2 separate regions of the Homo sapiens genome follow, and region 2 is linked to region 1. The links come from fine-mapping of genetic effects on gene expression. A gene starts in region 1. The other region holds a variant in brackets. All regions are shown on one strand. Distances are between the middles of the regions. Region 1 holds the start of CDK18 (cyclin dependent kinase 18). Region 2 overlaps CDK18 (cyclin dependent kinase 18).

The links.
Region 2: its variant is fine-mapped to the expression of CDK18 in nucleus accumbens (GTEx, PIP above 0.99).

Annotation. Positions count from the first base shown.
Region 1 is chr1:205,500,249-205,509,389 of GRCh38, forward strand. It overlaps CDK18 (cyclin dependent kinase 18), which reads left to right and starts at 4,421. Exons shown (of 16, transcript NM_212502.3): 1 at 4,421-4,548. RefSeq lists an enhancer at 6,345-6,998.
Region 2 is chr1:205,529,767-205,538,907 of GRCh38, forward strand. It overlaps CDK18 (cyclin dependent kinase 18), which reads left to right. Exons shown (of 16, transcript NM_212502.3): 14 at 493-583; 15 at 862-939; 16 at 1,578-3,024. The coding sequence ends at 1,612. Among named protein-coding and RNA genes, the nearest start is that of CDK18, 30 kb to the left of the region's middle. RefSeq lists an enhancer at 6,671-7,172. The variant TGCC/T (reference allele first, on the strand shown) is at 3,873.

The sequences.
Region 1 (9,141 bases):
GCGAAGGGAGGATATGACACTTGGTGAAGTGATAAAGCAGAAAGTCCCAGGCTCTCTGCTGGAATCACACTGCTACAGGTAAATGATATTTTTCTCCTAATCATCCCCACTTCTCATAAATCACTGGAAAACAATGGCCTAGGTTTAGCCAGAGGAGGAGTAAGAATTGGCTCAGTCTAGCCAAGTCCTGCTGTCCCAATGACTCACAGACCTCTAACTAGCTAGGCCATAATGGGTCAGTCCATCTTCAGGTCTCTGCTGCCAATCTCCCTCCTGCCTGCCAAGGGCAGGCTGTTGAGGTGAGTTTCTCTGTTCTCACTTAGCTTCTCATTTCTCATGTCTTTACTTGATTCCTGGAACCCTAAAAAGGGCCCTCTGGACAAACACTAATGATCTCATACACATGCAGGTCGTTCTACAGTGTGCAAAGCACTTTCACAGTCACCTTTGCATTTAGTTCTCCCATCCTGAAAGATAGGTATTCACACTATTCCCCTTTTGCTATAGAGGAAAACAGAGGCCCAGAGAAACAAAGTGATTTCTGCACCTTAGGGGCGGAGTCAAGTCTCCGGCCTCCCAAATGTCCCTGCAGTGCTTTCAGAGACTGTGCCTGCTCGGATATAGGGCCAGAGGGGAAGGGAGCCCCTGACAATGTGCAGAAAAGAGATTCTCTGTTGGCTGAACTCTCCCTGTCTGGATGCTGTGCCTCCCAGGGGAAAGTGGGGCGGGCTTGAACTTTGGTTTTTCAGATGCTATTCAAATGCACTGCCCACACAGTCTGCGAGGGAGAGCTGTTTCCAGCTTCCCTGCTCAGCCCTCAGGCACCCAGGGACGCCTGTCCTATCTGCAGAGCAGTGGCATGTCACTGGCAGCGAGGAGGAGACAGGAGCAGAGTGGGCAGTGGGCTGAGCTGCTGCTGGGGCCACCATTGTCATGCTGCTCAGGCCTGCCAGCATTACACTGCTACATGGCTAGGGTGACCAGGGCCTCCCGGGGATGCCACAGATCCATTAGACTAGCAGAGGGGAAGGGGGCTGCAGGACCCACAGGGGATGGGCCCCAGGGGCTGGGGTGCCAGGGAAACCCCCAGCTGAGGGTCTGTTGTCTGTCCCTCTGCAAGGAGGGAGTTAATGGGCTGCAGAAAAGAGAAACAGCATTGATTGGGTGCCAAGTTTACATCCTATTGAAACCTCACAACAGCCCCATGAGAGAGGGACTATTACCATCTCCATGTTATGGACAGGAAAGGAAGTCAGATATGTCAGTAACTGCCCAAGGTCACACAGTTTACATGGCTTTAAAGCTCAAAGTATTGCTTGGTAAGGCAGCAGGGAAGGAGCCCCTCCTTAGTGGAAGTCCTAGGTAGTGCTGCTTCTACTGTGTTTGGCTTATTGCAAGATGCACAGAAAGAAAGTTGGCATCGGAGGGCAGGGGACACCAAGGGGTTCAGAGGGAATTTTTGAAATGGTACAGATGAGAAGCAGAAAAATTAGGCTGACCCAAAGAGCACACATACACAGGCCACTGATGTGTATGACTGGGTATCATGGACTCCCTATCCAGCTAGTAAGCCCTGCCCAGGGTCACTCTTATCTGGTTCCCCCCTCCCACCTCCCATCTGCACTTGCCCTTTCCTGGGGTGGCCAAAGCTTGTTGTGCCATTCTCTGGGCTCCATATAGATGCCCACCTGCAGTTCATCCTCTTCCTTCAACCCTGAGAACCAAGACGATGCTTCAAAACTGAAGCTTTCAGAGATTCTGAAGCAATCCCATGTGGTGGTGGTGGGGCAGGGGGTGATGTGACAGGCTCTGAGCAGGTGGCTGGCCCTACATCATTTCAGCTGTCATCTCTCCTCTGTGGAGCTGTCCCAAATTCTCTTGGGCAGAGTTAAGGGCTTCTTCCTCTGCTCAGCCCATATTGCCTTGGTAGGTGACTGCCTCTGCATATCTTTCTCCACCTGAACAGTGAACTACATGAGAATAGGAACTGAGACTTAAAATCATCTATCCAATGCAAGGATCCAGTATAGTCCTTGTCACATAGCAGGTGTTCAATAAATGTTTGTTGAATGCATGAATGATGGTAATTATATTTACTATCTATTGAGTTCTCCATTATGAGCCAAGTCCTATGCCAGGCCCTTAGCATACATTACCCTAATATGTACAACAACCATACAAGATTGATTTTAGCAACTTTGTTCTACAGATGGCCTCAGAAAGCTTAGTTCGCTTGCCCAAGTTCACAGAGCAATCTAAGGAGGTGCTGGGAATCAAGGCTCACTTAAGAAGCTCCAAGGTCCCACTCAGCCTATCACATCAGTGCTTCTAATCTTGACACTGTTGGCTCCCTTATCTTCTAGAATCCAATAGTCACAAGGCTCCATGACCCTGTCTCCTACCTATCTCTCAAATCAGTTCCCTCCTCTCCTCCCTGCTGCCGCTGTGTGGTCTAAGCTCATTCTCATTTTCCACTAGGATCAGCCTCCACGTTGGGGGTCTTCAGGACCCAGCACCTGCCTGCCTCTACAGTGTCACCTCCACCCCAGACTTTAAGTTCTGACCTCATGGAACTGTGGGTCCATATTCTGTCACCCCTGCACTCTGCACAAGGGATTACCCCTCCTGGAAAAAACAGGGAAAATCCTTCCTCCTCTCTCTTGTCCCCTCATCCTGTAACCCTCACCTCAAGCAGAATAGCTCCTCCCAGGCATCCGTAACACTAAGCCTCCTCCTATAGCATCCTAACTGTTTGCTTCCCTGCCGCATTACACCAAGAGCTTCTTGAAGGCAGGGACTGGGTTATACTCATCTTATGTGCCCAGAGCCCTGGCTATCATTTGGCACATAAGAGATGTTGAGAAAGTGTTTGTGGAGACCTCTTGACTTCACCCCCCTAGTTCCTTGAAATTCTACCCTTTGGCCCCACTCTCTCTAATCCGCCAGTAAACAGTTCCTTGGCCATAGTCCTTCTCCCTTTCCCTCCCTGCCCCTTCCAAACCTCTTTATGGCCTCCTGCTCCCCAGGCTTCTCACCATCCACTGGACTACAGAGCCAGGAGGTTGCTGCACACCTAAAGGCTCTGGATCCATGCACCCCGACAACACTTGGCAGTTTCATTTTTAGGAAGTGCTGTGCCCAGGAAATCTGCATGCCTTGGCAGAGAAAGCGAGGTAAAAAAAAAAAAAAGAGTTGGGAGGCCCTCTGTGAGATGTCAACTACCCACAGGTCACTTTCATGCATGGGCCCAGTGTCTTCCTTCATTCTCCTGTCTCCAGCTGACAGTGGGACCTCAGGCCCATGTCTTCCAGAAGGAAACTGTTCTATTCTCAACAACTCACAGTCCCCAGGGAAAGGGTTCAGGTAGAAGCACATGTACACTGTGGAGCACCCCCTCCTAAGGAGACTTTCCCTGTGGGAGACCCCAGACTGCAGCAGCCAAGCCCTCTGGTAGGGCAGGGGACACAGACTGCCTTGATGAGGTGCCATAGAGCCAAGGCACACCTCCTCTCCTCACAGCCCTCAGGAGGAAGCAGAGATGAGAGGGGCCTGGCGGTGGGGCACTGTGCCCTTCACCCCCATCCCCAGATTTTTGTTTTGTTTTTTTTTTTGATCCTTGAAGTCAGATGATGTGGGTGCAATGGCCATTGGCCTGAGTTCTAATCATGGCTCGCCATGAACTCTTGTGGCACTTTAGGCCAGTTCAATTGCTTTGCTGGGCCTCAGTTTCCCCTTCTGTAAAATGAGAGTGCCACTAGCTGAACTAGCCATTCTGTAACCCTTCTTGGATGATTCTCAAATATCCTGTGGAGTTTAATTCCAAAAGGACAAGTTGAATTATCCTTCGGGGAGGGAAATGTGAATGATGGCTGGTAACAAGGGCTTCATTCAGGTCCTGGAGAGGTGGGAACTTTGTCCGGAAAGGTAAGTGACAAGTCCCACTGGATAGGGTAGAAGGGGAGCCCGAGGGCTACTATTGTCAAGAAAATGACCACCAAAATCTGTCCATGCACATTCGTTCCTAGGGCGCCAGGTACAGGGAGGTACCTAGGAGAGGTAGGAGCACCGCTTTTAGAGACAGGCAGGCACTCTCAGTGTACCCCTGGCGCCTTGGTGTCCTGGGGTGATCCAGTCCAGAAGGCCTCATCCCCTAGCCAAGGCTCTCAGGGCCGGTTTTAGAAACGAAACAGGAAGAGGCACTTGGACCCTGGTTCCCAGAGTGGGAGAAAGGGGTGGGCACCCGGGCAGAGGGAGCCCTGGGGATTGGTAGCGGCTGTGGGCAGGGCGGGAGGGCCGGGGGCGGAGTCAACTTGTACATGTGAAAAACTCTGGCGGGGGCCGGGCATTTTCCTTCCTCCTCCTCCTCCTCCTCCTCCTCCCTCCTCTTCCCCACCTTCCTCCACTCCCTCCCTTCCCCTCCCCTTCTACCTCCTCCTCGGCCAGCTCAGGTTGCAGCTTCTCTGGGGAACTGCTCACCTTTCCGGAGCAGGGGAAGCTGCCCCGTGCCCGGGAGGGAGCGGGCGCACCGCGGCCCCCAGGACACGCGCTGTGAGTCCCGCGGGCGGTGCGCCTGGGAGGAAGGGGGAGGTCGGAGGAGCGGGCACCGCGGCGCCGGGTATAAGGAGCAAAGGTAAGCGGAACGGCTCTTAAAGGCGCAGTTTTGCTTTTGCCCTGAGGCGAGAGGTTGGAGGGAAATACCGGAGCGGCGAGGGGAGAGCAGAGATCACGAGGCGTGATCTGTGTGATACTGTGTTGTGTGTTGAGGGGTGGGGGGTGCCCTCGAAAGGCCACTCGTAAGTTCCAGGTGCTTGAGAGGGAGGGTTATTTTGCAATCTCAGACCCCGCGCCCCCTTAGGGAGTCTCCATCTGGGATCACTTTGGCCCCTGGGCTCCCGTCTGAACCCTACAAAGCAAAGTTTTCCACCCAGTCCGGAACCAGGCGCTTTCTAAGCTCCCTTCATTCTGGGAAGGGCAAGGGTCAGGAGTCTCCAGGGACCAAAGGACCCGAGAGTGTGGGGCCACATCGCTGCCTTGAAGGGCTTCCTGGGCTCTGGTGAACTTTCCAGAGCGGCAGGCAGGGGGTGGGAGGCCGGAGCCCTGGGAAGAACGTGGAAGGACACGTGAAGCCCTGCAGGTCCCAGTTCTGGGGGAGGCAGGGGTCTGGGGAATGCTGCTGCTTCTCTCTTTCCACCCCGGAAGACCAAAGGGGCAGTGCCCCCCTCCACCCCTCATCAACAGGCGACAGAGGGTTAATGCAGCAGAGGGAAAGGAGGCTGGGTGGGGCCGGGGGGAGTGGGCGGTGACCTGTTGGGCTAAGGAGATGTGCCTTGAGGATTCTGCTGTAGTTGAGGGACACCATCAGGAATCTGAAATCCAAAATCGGGTCTGGACTGGAGGCCTCTGTTTTCGCCCTGTGGGGGGCGGGGATTCCCTGAAGGTGTCTGCAGACCTTGTGCTGGGTGGGAGTTGGGCTGCAGAAACAGTGAGGGGTTTTCTGTGCTGCAGGGTCAGCACCCTCCTAGGCACCAGCCCTGCCTCTCTTCATTCTCTCTGGGCACCTCCCGGCAGTCGGGGTGGGAGGATTGACACTGTGGGAGTGAGAGGCCCTGGAACCTCTTCCGCGCTATCTGCTACTGTCTCCCCTTCTTCCCCACCCCTAGCCCAGCCCTCGGCAGTTCCCCAGCTGTAGCCTGGGCCCTGTGACTCACTAACACCACCGGCTTGCCCCTCCTGTGTCAGCACCCAGTGAGCTTCGGCATGTTCGCGTGGCATTCCCCACCCGGGCATGGGCATGCAGCACATTCCTGGACACGGGCCTGAGAGGATGCCTGGAGCGCCTGGTGGACTGGCACGTCCTCAGAGATCCCCTGCCTTTAGCCTGGCCTTGGGAGGGGCCTGGGAAAACGGTGCTGAGGGTGCTGAGGGTCGGTGGAGTACAGGGCGACACTGGCTCCAGGTCCGGGTTTGCATCCTGAAGGCGTTCCAGAGAGAGGGTCACCTTGCCACAGCAAAGCTGCTATCTCGGGTTACCCTTTCCCAGCCACCTCTTGTGCAGCTGAGGAGGCTGTGGGGCTGACCCCTCCCCCACCCTTAATCTGGGGTGTACCTGACCATTGGGTTCCCAGGACTCTCCCCACTGGGTCCCCAGGACTCTCCCCATACCCTGCCAGGAGAATGGAAGAAGCTCTCCACGCGTGCCAGAAGAAGTTCTTCCCAAACTTATCGGGGGTGCCAGAGGCAGAGTAGACAAGCCTTAGTGGCCACCATTTGTTGAATATCTACTGTGCGCCAAGCAGTGCGTCACAACTTTATGAAGTAGGTATTATTATCATCCCCATTTTACAGGTGAAGAAACTGAGTCTCTGAGAGACCAACTTTTCCAAGGTCACACAGAGGTGGGATCCAGCCCACTTCCGTCTGACCCCAAGCCCCTGCTGTTAACCCCTGCCCCATTGTGGGGAGGTTCCGGCCCACTCTGGAGTTCTCTGGTCTGCGTCAGTCCTCAGGAGAAGAAAGAATGGGGGTGATGCTCCAAATATTGAGGCTCCCATCTGTCTGTCCTGCACTAGGCAGAGCCAGGCTTCTCCATGGGGCACAGGAGAGAGGGCACCAGATCTGAGGAGCAAATAGGTTCTTGGTCTGAGATCTCGTGGGATCAGGTTGCCAGCCCTGCAAACCCCCGCTCAGGTCTAGAGGACATGGAGCTGCCTTTCAGGGTGCATTTGCTTCCTCTACAGACTCGGACTCTGTCCTCTGCCTACTTGGGCCGTCCCGCACTCGGGAATGCGTCCTACACTGTAGGGCAGAGCCCGGCTTGACTCTTCCCGGTTCCTACCCTAACCAAGCCTCTACTTTCTGGGATCACCCTGTTGGGACTTTTGTCCAGCATCTCCATCTACCTGTCCTCTGATTCCTTCTGTTCTTCTCTAACTGAGCTTGAGAACTAAAGGGGAGGGCAAACTTCTGGCCTTGGTGGAATCCAGCTCCAGCATATAGTAGCTATGTGACCTTCCCCTCACTAGCACACTCGTGAATTTCTCCCAGCATCCGTTCCCTCATCTGTAAAATGAGGATCATAATAGAGGGCTGTTATAAGATTTAGGCTGGGTGCGGTGGCTCACGCCTGTAATCCCAGCACTTTGGGAGGCCGAGGTGGACGGATCACGAGGTCAGGAGATCGAGACCATCCTGGCTAACATGGTGAAACCCCATCTCTACTGAAAAAAAAAAAAAAGCACAAAATTAGTCAGGCGTGGTGGCAGGTGCCTGTAGCTACTCGGGAGGCTGAGGCAGGAGAATGGCGTGAACCCGGGAGGCGGAGGTTGTAGTGAGCCGAGATTGCACCGCTGTACTCCAGCCTGGGCGACAGAGCGAGACTCCGTCTCAAAAAAAAAAAAAAAAAAAAAAAAAAAAAATAATGCACAGTGCCTGGCATGTAGCAGAGACTAAATAACTGGTAGCTATAGTGGTTGGTGGTGCTTGTTTGGAAAGGGAATTTCCTGGTGATTGCACCAGGGCTGGTCTAGAGACCAAGGTAGATTTTCCCAGCCCCATCAGGCCAAGCCCTTAGTTAGACAGAATCTTTACTGCTCTTCCAGGTTAGGGAGGAGGGCTCTGTGTAAGAGAATGGTGGTGGTGGTAGGGGAATGGGTTGGATGGAAATCTTCCAGGAGGGGCCAGGAATCTGTGCTGTGGGGGCCCTACCTTCTGGCAGTTATGAATGAGGCAGGCACTGGGAGCTGGAGAGGCAGCAGTCTCTTGCTCTGAGGGCCCTCTGGCAGCGCCTTCTTTCCCTGAGGTAGGAGGACCCTCCCCTGGTACTTAATTAATTGCAGTCCCTGTTCTGCTCTGTTGTTCAGGGTGAGTGGCTGGCCTGGTTCCAGGCCCACCTGATTAGCCCACCTTTGGCAATAAGTCACATTTCTCTTCCTCGGCTCTGTGTCCCACCATAACCCCTTACGTCCCCTTCCCTGGACTTTTCACCTTTGCCCTCCAGGCATTCCCTGCTGAGTGGGCACTTTCCCACATCCAGGGGGTGGGAGCAGACCAAGGTTAATCTTGTCCTGGCTCCCACAGCTGCTTACACACACACAGCTGCATGCACATGCACACACAGGCTGGGCTCACAACAGCTCAGGCCAAGGGTCTGGGATCCAGGATCACTACAGAGCTGGTAGCTGGGCCTGGCTGGAGCTGGCCAGTGGTTCAGCAGCAAGTCTGGAAGAGGAAAAGCCGTGGGCGCATCTCCGCCAGACCTCCTGTCTGAAAGAGAGCCCATCTGCTCCTAGAATCTCCACAGCTACATCTGCAGAGGAGGAGGGGTAGTGAGGCAAGTGTGAGGTTTGGTTTTAAACTGAAAAGGGAGGTGGGCGGATTGCTTGAGCCCAGGAGGTCGAAACCAGACTGGGCAACATGGCAAGACCCCATCTCTAAAAAAATACAAAAATTAGCCAGGTGTGGTGGCACGCGCCTGTAGTCCCAGCTACTCGGGAGGCTGAGAGGGGAGGATCGCTTGAGCCTAGGAGGTTGAGGCTGCAGTGATCCATGATTGCATCACTGCACTCCAGCCTGGGCAACAGAACAAGAACTTGTCAAAAAAAAAATTGAAAAGGGTCTTAGGCCGGGTGTGGTGGCTCATGCCTGTAATCCCAGCACTTTGGAAGGCCAAGGCGGGTGGATCACTTGAGGCCAGGAGTTTGAGACCAGCCTGGCCAACATGATGAAACCCTGTTTCTCCTAAAAATACAAAAATTAGCTAGGCATGGTGGCGTGTGCCTGTAATCCCAGCTACTCGGGAGGCTGAGGTAGGAGGATCGCTTGAACCCAGGAGGTGGAGGTTGCAGTGAGCCGAGGTCGCACCACTGCACTCCAGCCTGGGCGAGAAACAAAACAAAACAAAACAAAAAACGGGTCTTGAAGCAAAGCTCCCTGACAGCATGAGTAACCCTGAAGAGACTGGACACCTTGCTCTGGGAGACATGGGCCAGAACTTTTGAAAGGACTATGATGAGATCCTCTTTCCTGGAGCTCTTGATAATGGTCCCACCCTCTGAGCCTCCCTACCCCCACCATTAAATAAAAGTCTTCCCTAGAAATGGTGGAGTCGGGATAGACAAGATGACCCAATAATGGCTGGCTGGT
Region 2 (9,141 bases), 30 kb after region 1:
TACTTAGCTGTGTAGCTCTGGGCAAGTTACAGAGCTCCTCCATGCCTCAGTTTCCTCAGCTGCAAAGTGGGATTAATACCTATTTTATAAGATGGCCGTGAGGATACATTGAGATGACGGGACACACTTAGTGTGGTGCCTGTCTTGTAAGGCACACGATGAAGGGTTGTTATCGGCACTACGCTTCCTGTTACGGATGTTCTCCATCTGATCATGGTTGGTTTGCATCTGTATTTCTATCCCAAGAGAAGGTCACTCTCCTGAAGTTTCATTTCTGGTTTTTCCTGGTGGCTGGAGACCGAGGAGCCTTCCCCTGAGTCTTGAGATGGCCTGAGGTTGGGTTTGTGGTAGGGGCTGGAGGCTGACCTGGGGCTTCTCCTGTTAGCCTCAAGCCTCACCCACCTTGGTGCTCTAACCAGCACTGGAGTCCTGCTGCCCAGAGGGTTTGCAGCCCCCCAGCCGGGCCCAATAGCCCCACCCTGTGCCTTTCAGTATGAATCCAAGAGTCGCATGTCAGCAGAGGCTGCCCTGAGTCACTCCTACTTCCGGTCTCTGGGAGAGCGTGTGCACCAGCTTGAAGACAGTGAGTACTGGGGGTCCGGGAGCAGGGCCACCCAGAACCAAGGAAAGGGGTTGGTGAGTGTGGGCAGAAGAACCAGAACAAAGAGGCCAGAGGCCCCAGCCCCAGCAGAGCAGCCCCGGGCACCTTGCCTCCCCTGCTGGGGTTCTCATTCCAAATTGAGGGGGCAAACAGTGGAAATGAGACGCTGCCTCGAGGGCTCAGTTGGTCCTTCTGGGCCAGTCCTTACTGGAGGCCAGCTCCACGCAGCCCTCTCCAGACTATGCACTTCTCTCCCCCAGCTGCCTCCATCTTCTCCCTGAAGGAGATCCAGCTCCAGAAGGACCCAGGCTACCGAGGCTTGGCCTTCCAGCAGCCAGGTAGGGGCTTGTGCTCTCCTGGACCCCTCCCCTTGTTAGTGGAAGCCAGAGCAGGCGACCCCTCCCCAGTGGGGACTCCCATGGTCCCCCCACCACTGGCTTCCCTTTGGACTCTTTGGGGAGCAGAGAAGGGGTTGGTTTCTCCTGCCTAGACTTCCTCGTCCAGCTCTTCCCTCCTCAACCCTCCACCCCAGACAGGACATTGCATTTGACAGTAGCCCTGGCAAAGAGGCATGCTGTCTCTGGTGCATTCTCTCTGCAAACCCTGAGCTCTCTAATCAGATTCCATCCTGGGAGAACGGTACTTTGTTCCTAGAACAGTCAATGGCCTTGGACATTGACAAATGCTTTCCATGCATCGTCTTCTTTAATCCTTAAAATACCCCTTGAAGCTAGTACTATTAATATTCCCCATTTCATAGTCAATGAAACTGAGGCTCTGGGAGGTTAAGTCACAAGTTCATGCAGCTAGTAAGTAGCAGAGATGGGATTTGACACCAGGTCAGACCGGCTCCTGTTTGCATGCCCTTGCTTGCTCTGTCAGAGCAGCTCTGGGGGACAGCGACTGTCCCTGCTGACCTGGGGTACCCGTCAGCCCAGCCTCCTCCCTGCAGCCCCACCTCTTCTCCATTCTCCAGGACGAGGGAAGAACAGGCGGCAGAGCATCTTCTGAGCCACGCCCACCTTGCTGTGGCCAAGGGACAAGAGATCACATGGAGCACAAATTCGGGTAGGATGGAGCCTGTGTGGCCCTCGGAGGACTGAAGAACGAGGGCTGACAGCCAGCCTGGAAGACCGCTTGGCAGCCCTTCTGGCCACGGCTGTTTCTTCTTTGTGCTTCCCGTGTGCCTCCCCAGTAGCCCTCACCTGCATACCAACCCCTCCTTTACCCACGTTGGGGCTGGCATAAGCTGCTTCCCTGAGAGGACATGAGGGGGGGGCGGTCCTCGTACCCTCTCCCACCCTGGTGTTTGGGCACCTGCGTGGGATGCACACGGATGACAGAATCAAGGCGCCAGGATGGGCACTCTGCCCTGGATACAGGCTCTACCCTCCTCCCCCAGGACCTGCCTAGTGCCAGTTTGGTAGTCCCCCTTTCTGGCCCCTTGGAGCCCACACACGTTTCATCTTTTTCCCCTCTGAGAGCAAGAAGAGACATGGCATGTTCTCTGGGACCCTGGAATCCTAGGTACCCACATGTGTGCCAAAGCCTACCCCACCTGGCAGGTGTCCCACAGCAACAGAAGGAATAGTAGTCCCCACTCTTTCCATCAGCCCTACCCTACCCTCATTCCCCGACACCCTCTGGCTTGAACCATGGCTGAGCAGTGCCGGCATACGCTTTGCTGGCATGCTTGGATGCCCAGCTGTGTCCAGAGGTGGCCTGGGACCGCCAGTTGCACGCCTGCCACCTCAGCCAGCCCCCGCCCAGCTCATCAGTCTGAATGGAGTTGCCTTAAATTGGCAGGTGGTACCGTACTCACTGCCCTTGGAGCTGTGACCGGCTCCTGCCTGTCCACCCCTTCCCGAGGTGGCTCCTGCTTACCTTATCATCCCAGGGCTCTGATTAGCCAGGCCTGGTCAGGGTCCTGGGGACGGCACCCAGATATGCAGAGTCACCCTGACACTGGTGCCAGGCTGACCTCAGCTCCCGAAGGCTCGCACAGCCTCCCCATCCTTCCTTCCCAGCCCTTGTGGCTCTGTCCACCTGATCCCAATACCAGCTTCCCCCAGCCCCTGCCACCCCAGAGGGCGGCCACGACAGGGAGAGGTGTAGATGCCACCATCTGAGGGAGAGGAACGTGGAACAGGAGCAGGCTCTGATGCTGAGAGGCTTGCCTCCGGGGGCTGGAAGCCTGGGTGGCCGGGGCCCCTGAAGAAGGCTCCCCTCTGTATCCCCCAGGTCTCCTCAACACTGGGCTGATCCTGAATGGCACAGGCCAAGGGGAGGCCAGCCTCGCCTTTCTACCCAGGCCCCCTGCCCTGCCCACCTCAGGCCCCCACCCTCCACTCCTCCCCACGGTACTGTGAACGTCGTGTGACTCAGTGCAGAGACAGATAATATATTTAATTCATGTACAGAAAGGAGCGAGCAGTCTCGTACAGAAAAGCTGACTTTGATAGATTGATGCCAAAGATGGAGAACTGAAGTCCCCCCTCCAGGCCTAATGAGTGTGGGTGGGGTGTGCTTGTGTGTATGTGTGTGTGTGTGTGTGTGTGTGTGTGTGTGTGTATATATATATATATATATATATATATATAGTGAGGAGAGAGTTTGATTTGTGTGTATCTCTGACCTCCCCTACACCCCAGGCTGTGGGACGAGTGCCTAGCATTCACCTTGCTGTATCCTGGGTGCTGCTGCGTTCAGAGCCAGAAGTTGGCTCTTGCTGAGGAGCATCAGTGGTTGTTGTGGGTGGGCAGAGGAGTCCCAGGCCTGGGAGTCTGACCTGTGGCCTGGCATTGGCCCAAGTTGGTGCCTGTGGGGTGGGGCTGGCCAGGAGAGCAAAGAGGGACCCCTGGGCGGGGGTCTGGGGTCTGGCCGTGCAGCTAATCCCTGTGTTCCTGATGCCAAATGGCCCCCTGGCTTCTGGGGAGGGAGGTAGGCAAGATCAAGATGAGGTTGACATGGGAGATGGCCAAGGCCAGGGCAGCAGGACGAGGGTGTGGGCCTCACTGTAATTCAGGCTCTGCAAGAATTGCTGCAGACCTCGAATACACCTCCTGCTGCTGCCTAGACCGCCTCCCCACCTTTGATCTGGACACAACCCACCCCCGCAACACATCATACACAGCTCCCAAAGTGCTCAGAGTCCTGCTGTTGTCCAGTTCGGTGTCCAGGTTTGTTCTTCCCGAGACCACTCTGAGAATGCCAGGCCCGAAACCCTGCCTCCTGACCTGTCCTCATGCCTGGCCTTAAGCACTTTGCAGTT[TGCC/T]GGCATGGTTTGCAGTTACTTAAGAGGGTGGCTGCTTTCCAGAGGAGGAAGCTGATGCTGAGGTTGATGATGTCTCCCAAGGCTCTGGAAGTAAGGGGCGGGCCAGGGCTCCATTCTCAGCTCAGCACCAGTTCTACCGAAGGAGACCTCCTCACTTTGCTTGTAGGCAGCCAGACACCAAAGTAGGGTCGTAACTCAGACAATTAGTGCTTGAGGGGAGGAGAAGGGCTGGGAAATGCATTGGTGGGAATTGGAAACCAGACATTTATTAAGTTCCCTGCTGGGTGCCAGGCAGCCCTGTGCCCAGGCATTGTCTCACTGAATCCTCATAGAAACCCCCCTTTCTCCCCACTTTGCAGATGAGGACAGGAGCCTCCCAGGGGTAGCCTGGGGTCACATACCAAATTAGAATCCCAGGTGTCTGCCCCCCAGCCCTGTGGTCTTTAAGGAGTGGGAGGCGTGGGGAGGGTGAGGTGGAGATAGTGCAGAGGCCCTGGAGGGAGGAAAACACACAAGGAAGGATATGGGCAGATGCTGCCTTGAGGAGCACTTTGCAAGGCAACTCTTGTGGCAGGCAGAGGTGGCCCAGAGTCGCTGGGGGCAGCCGTTCTTGCTGCTGCAGCTGTGGCCCTGCTGAGGAGGCACACACCTAGGGGCTTCTGACATCAGGCATGCTGAGCTTCTGCCCTAGAAAGCTGCCAGGGCTGGGAGTGCCGGCCAGCCTGGGGGTGTGGAACTCAGCTGGACAGGCCTACACCAGGCCTTGGATATGATTGGTGCTCAAAAAGTGATGGCTCCGGAGAAGGAAGCTGGGTTCGGGTGTGAAGAGGGGCTGAGTGATTTTGGCCATGAGCTGCCACTGGGCTCCCAGGGACCAGGCTGAGCTACAACCCAACCCAGTGTCCTGGAGCCCTCGGTTTCCTGGGCACCCCTGCAATCATTTCCTTATGCCGGTGACTCTCAAAAACAGGAGCCTGCCCCATTCTGCTGGAATCCCCGGCCCAAAGCAGCCTTTTACAAGTCATTCCCCCTCAGGCCTCACTTGTCACCTGCCTGCTTCTGGGACAGGTCAGGAATATCCAGGGTGCAGATGCCGTCCCCTCCACCATGGCCACTTGGCAGGGGCATTTGAGGCATGTAGCAGCCCTGCAGCTTCAGACAAAATGTCCTATTTGCTGAACTCTACAGGGTGGGGGTGATATCAGCTCCTGTGCTTGGCACTGCCCACATCATCTTGCACCCCGGTGGGACCTGGAGCTCGCTCTCCCCTGCCCCACCCTCCTGTGGGCTCCCATTCACCCTGCCCCTACTCTCTGGGTCCAGTGGTCAGGGCTGATGTCTAATAGGCCACCACTCCTCTACCCTGCTAGGCCCCCTGGGTCAGCCAAGTGTCAGACACTGTTGCAGGCCTGCTCCTTTCCTCCCTTCTTGAAGCATCCCAGCCTCCTTTGGGCCATCTCCCCACCTCTATCACTGCTCAGACCCTTGCTTTTGGCCGTGACACTCTACAGCACCCCAGTGAGCCCCTCTATCTCCAGAGCAAATCATCAGCACCATGAATTAGCCACAGCCTCCTCCATGCCTGGCCCTGTGCTAGATGCCAGGGACACCAAGATGCATGACATTCCACCCCTACCTTCCAGAAGCTCAGACCTGCCGGCAGAGATGGCCTTGATTACAACAGGTTTTCTCAAGAACCCACTGTGCACCCGGTGCTGTGCTAGGCACTGAGGATACAGCCGTGAACAAGATGGCCAAGCCCTACTCTCATAGAGCTTATGTTCCAGTGGGGGGTATAAGACGTTATCCAAACCAACAGGCATATCAAGGGGTCATAAGTGTGATGAGACAAAATAAGGCAGGGGCAGGTTTGAGGGGGAAGAATGTGATGGCATAGGGAGGGGAACTGCCTGGTCAGGGAGGGACCTCTCCATCAAAAATGAGCTATGGGCTGGGCGTGGTGGCTCACACCTGTAATTCTGGCACTTTGGGATGCCAAGGCAGGCAGATCGCTTGAGCCCAAGGGTTTGAGATCAGCCTGGGCAACATAGCGAGACCCCGTCTCTATTTAAAAAAAAATTAGCTGGGTGTGACGGCTCATGCCTGTAGTCTCAGCTACTCAGGAGGCTGAGGTAGGAGGATCACTTGAACCCAGGTCGAGCCGCAGTGAGCAGTGATCATGCCACTACCATCCAGCCTGGGCAATGGAGTGAGACCCTGTACCAAAAAAAAAAAAAAAAAAAAAAAAAGTGAGCTATGTTGTGTAAGGGGGCCAGGTGGACAGCCAGGGACAGAGTATTCCAACAAAGGCCCTGAGGTGAACGTACTTGAGAATGAGTGAGAGGCAGTGAGGCCAGGGCACAGTGAGCCAGGCAGCATGGCAGGAGGGATGTATCATGTGGGGCAGTGGCTCTGCCCATTAGATCCACCTGGGAAGTGCTTAAGATCCACTGCCATCCGGCCCCAGCTCAGATTGATTCAGATGACCCTAACATGTATCCAGGGTTGAGAACCGCTCACTCGTGCGGGGTCTTGCGGGCTGTGGTACGGGTTCTGGATTTTATTCTGAGATGGGAAGCCACTGGCCTCTGTTTTTAAAGGCTCAGAGGGTCAAATAGGAGATGTCAGCCCCTATAAGGAGGGTGATGGGGCAGGGAGAGGAAGGATCCCCCAGGTGGTGGTAGAGCAGCAGCAGGTGTGGTGGGAAGGGAGAAGGGAAGCACCTGCTCTCCTGTGTTGCTGCGAGAGGGACTGTCATCCTAATCCCAGGGAGGGCCACAGAGGCTCTAGGGTTAGGTGACCTGCATGGCCACACAGGGAGTAAGGTGGACTGTCAATTACAACCCAGGTCAGCCTACCTGAGCAGCTGCCTCCGGGCAGGTGTGGGCACTGGCACGGACACTCCACCTCACTTGTTTGCATGGAGGATGGGCATCTGGTTTCCAGGGACTGGGAAATCCTTGCCTTCTGGTCACCTAAAAGCATTGTCTGACAGGCAGCCAGTTGACACCTGGGGGTTGGGCAAAAGTCACTATCCCCCACCCCACCAAGTGCCCCCTGAGTGATGACTCAGCCCCTCTTCCGGACCCTCAGAACCTCCCACCATCTGCCAACTAAAAGCATCATTGGGCACCAGGGCCCTGCTCCCGCCCTAGCTGTGGAGGCCCGGTGGCTGGCATCATTGCTGATGGTCAGTGCCCAGACTCCAGGGAGTGTGTGCCAATTCTCCTAGACAGGACGGGTGGGGCCAAGGGCAGCTCTGATGAGATTGCAGGTGCCACGTGGCCACTCCCGCTTCCTCCCTTGTTTTCTCCTCTTCCTTCTTCCTGCTTCTTTTTACTTCTCTCAGTGCCCCTTGGGGGCACTAGGTATTACTCAGTGGGCGGCCCTGAGTAATACTGAAACCCAGAGATCAATAATTTGACCCAGCCTCTTGTCTAAGGAAGGAGATTTTGCAGCCTCTCCCTTGAATCAACCCAAGCCTCCAGTCCCTGAGATGTGTTCTCAATGCCAAGCATCAACCCTTGCTCCTGCATCCCTGGGCCCTTCCTGGTGATGTGACGCAAACATGGAGAGCTGAAGCATGGACAGGGCGTGGCAGGGAGGATCCCCGCTGCCCTCCTGCATGTGGTCAGCACTCCTGCTTGCCCCTTTCTGGGCTAGAAACTTCTAGCCCAGTTCCTCATCTTCCTGTCTCCTCCAGAGCTCCTCCCTCCCTAATTTACTCATTATCCATCAGATGGTTCCAGACTCTGTGCCAGGCTCTGTTTTCAGTACCCAGGATACAAACTTGACCCTGACTTAGACCCCACTCCCAGGAGCTCAGCATCTCAGAGGCGGCTAGGATAATCTTTTCTTCCTCTCAGCTTCTTAAGGTCTCAGCTACTTGGGGGAAAGACAGTTGTCCATTAGTCATTCTATTAAAATTTCCTAAGGTTTTTTTTTTTTTCAAGAACAATAAAATGTTTTAATGTCCTCATGTTTTCCCTGGAGGAGAGATTGGCTAAGTCCTAGGTTCCTGGGAAGAAGGAATCTTGAACAACCAGGGAAATAACACACAGGCTCCAAAATCACAGACTTGGATTCAAATCCCAGCTCTACGGCTTGCAAGCTGTGTCACCTTGGGAATGTTCCTTAACTGCTCTGTGCCTCAGTTTCCCTCTCTGTAAAACGGAGATAGTGATAACACCTATTTCACAAGGTTGTGAGGATTTAAGAATGAATATTCAGGCCGGGCGCAGTGTCTCATGCCTGTAATCCCAGCCCTTTTGGAGGCCGAGGCGGGTGAATCACTTGAGGCCAGGAGTTCGAGACCAGCCTGGCCAACATGGTGAAGCCCCATCTCTATTAAAAATACAAAAATTAGCCGGGCGTGGTGGTGGACCCCTGTAATCCCAGCTACTTGGGAGGCTGAGACAGGAGAATTGTTTGAACCCAGGAGGTGGAGGATGCAGTGAGCTGAGATCGTGCCACTGCACTCCAGCCTGGGTGACAGAGTGAGACCCTGTCTCAAAAAAAAAAAAAAAAAAAAAAAGACAAAAAGAGAATGAATATTCAGGAGGGGCCTGACCCAGAGTGCTAGGTGAGTGAGCTTCACATCCTCACTCTGCACACTCCCACCCACTTCTCCACAAGCAGGAATTCCAGCTTCCTCCCTCCTGGAAGTAAAGTGGAAGATCATATGCTTTTATTTCTTGCATTCTTCACTCTTGATAAGATCTCAATCAGCAAGAATGTATTAAGAACATCCTACTTAAAAGATTTTGCAAGACTTTTAAAATGACCTCAGCCCAGAGTTTTTTCTCCACGGAAGCTTTAAACGTAGCTGGGGAAGTAAACATGGAAAGAGAATTTATGATAAAAGGCACTGGGTCAGGCGTCACTCAAAGTGGATCCGCTGCCTCTTGAGGTAGTAAGTGCTTTGTCCCCCAGACTGGGAAACCACTTGGGAATTCCAGGGGCATCACTGCCTCTGGTATGTCTTGCCAGGTTCCTGAGGAGCCAGCAGCCAGATCTGCACCTGGCCTGACCCTATTCCTTGGATCTTTCTTTTTTGCTGTGCGGAGTAGCAAGGTGTAACTGGCAGATGAGATACCTTCCTCAGAGAAGCCAGAGGAATGTGGCAAAGCATGATCCTGGGCTTGCAAACACCCTTCTCCTTGGATTCCAGGATGCCAGGGGTATCCTCTCAGGCCTGTCACTGGCTTTGAGGCCAGACTTGGCTTTTCAGGACCTGAGACTGATTCTGGGGTGTGGGAATGAACTA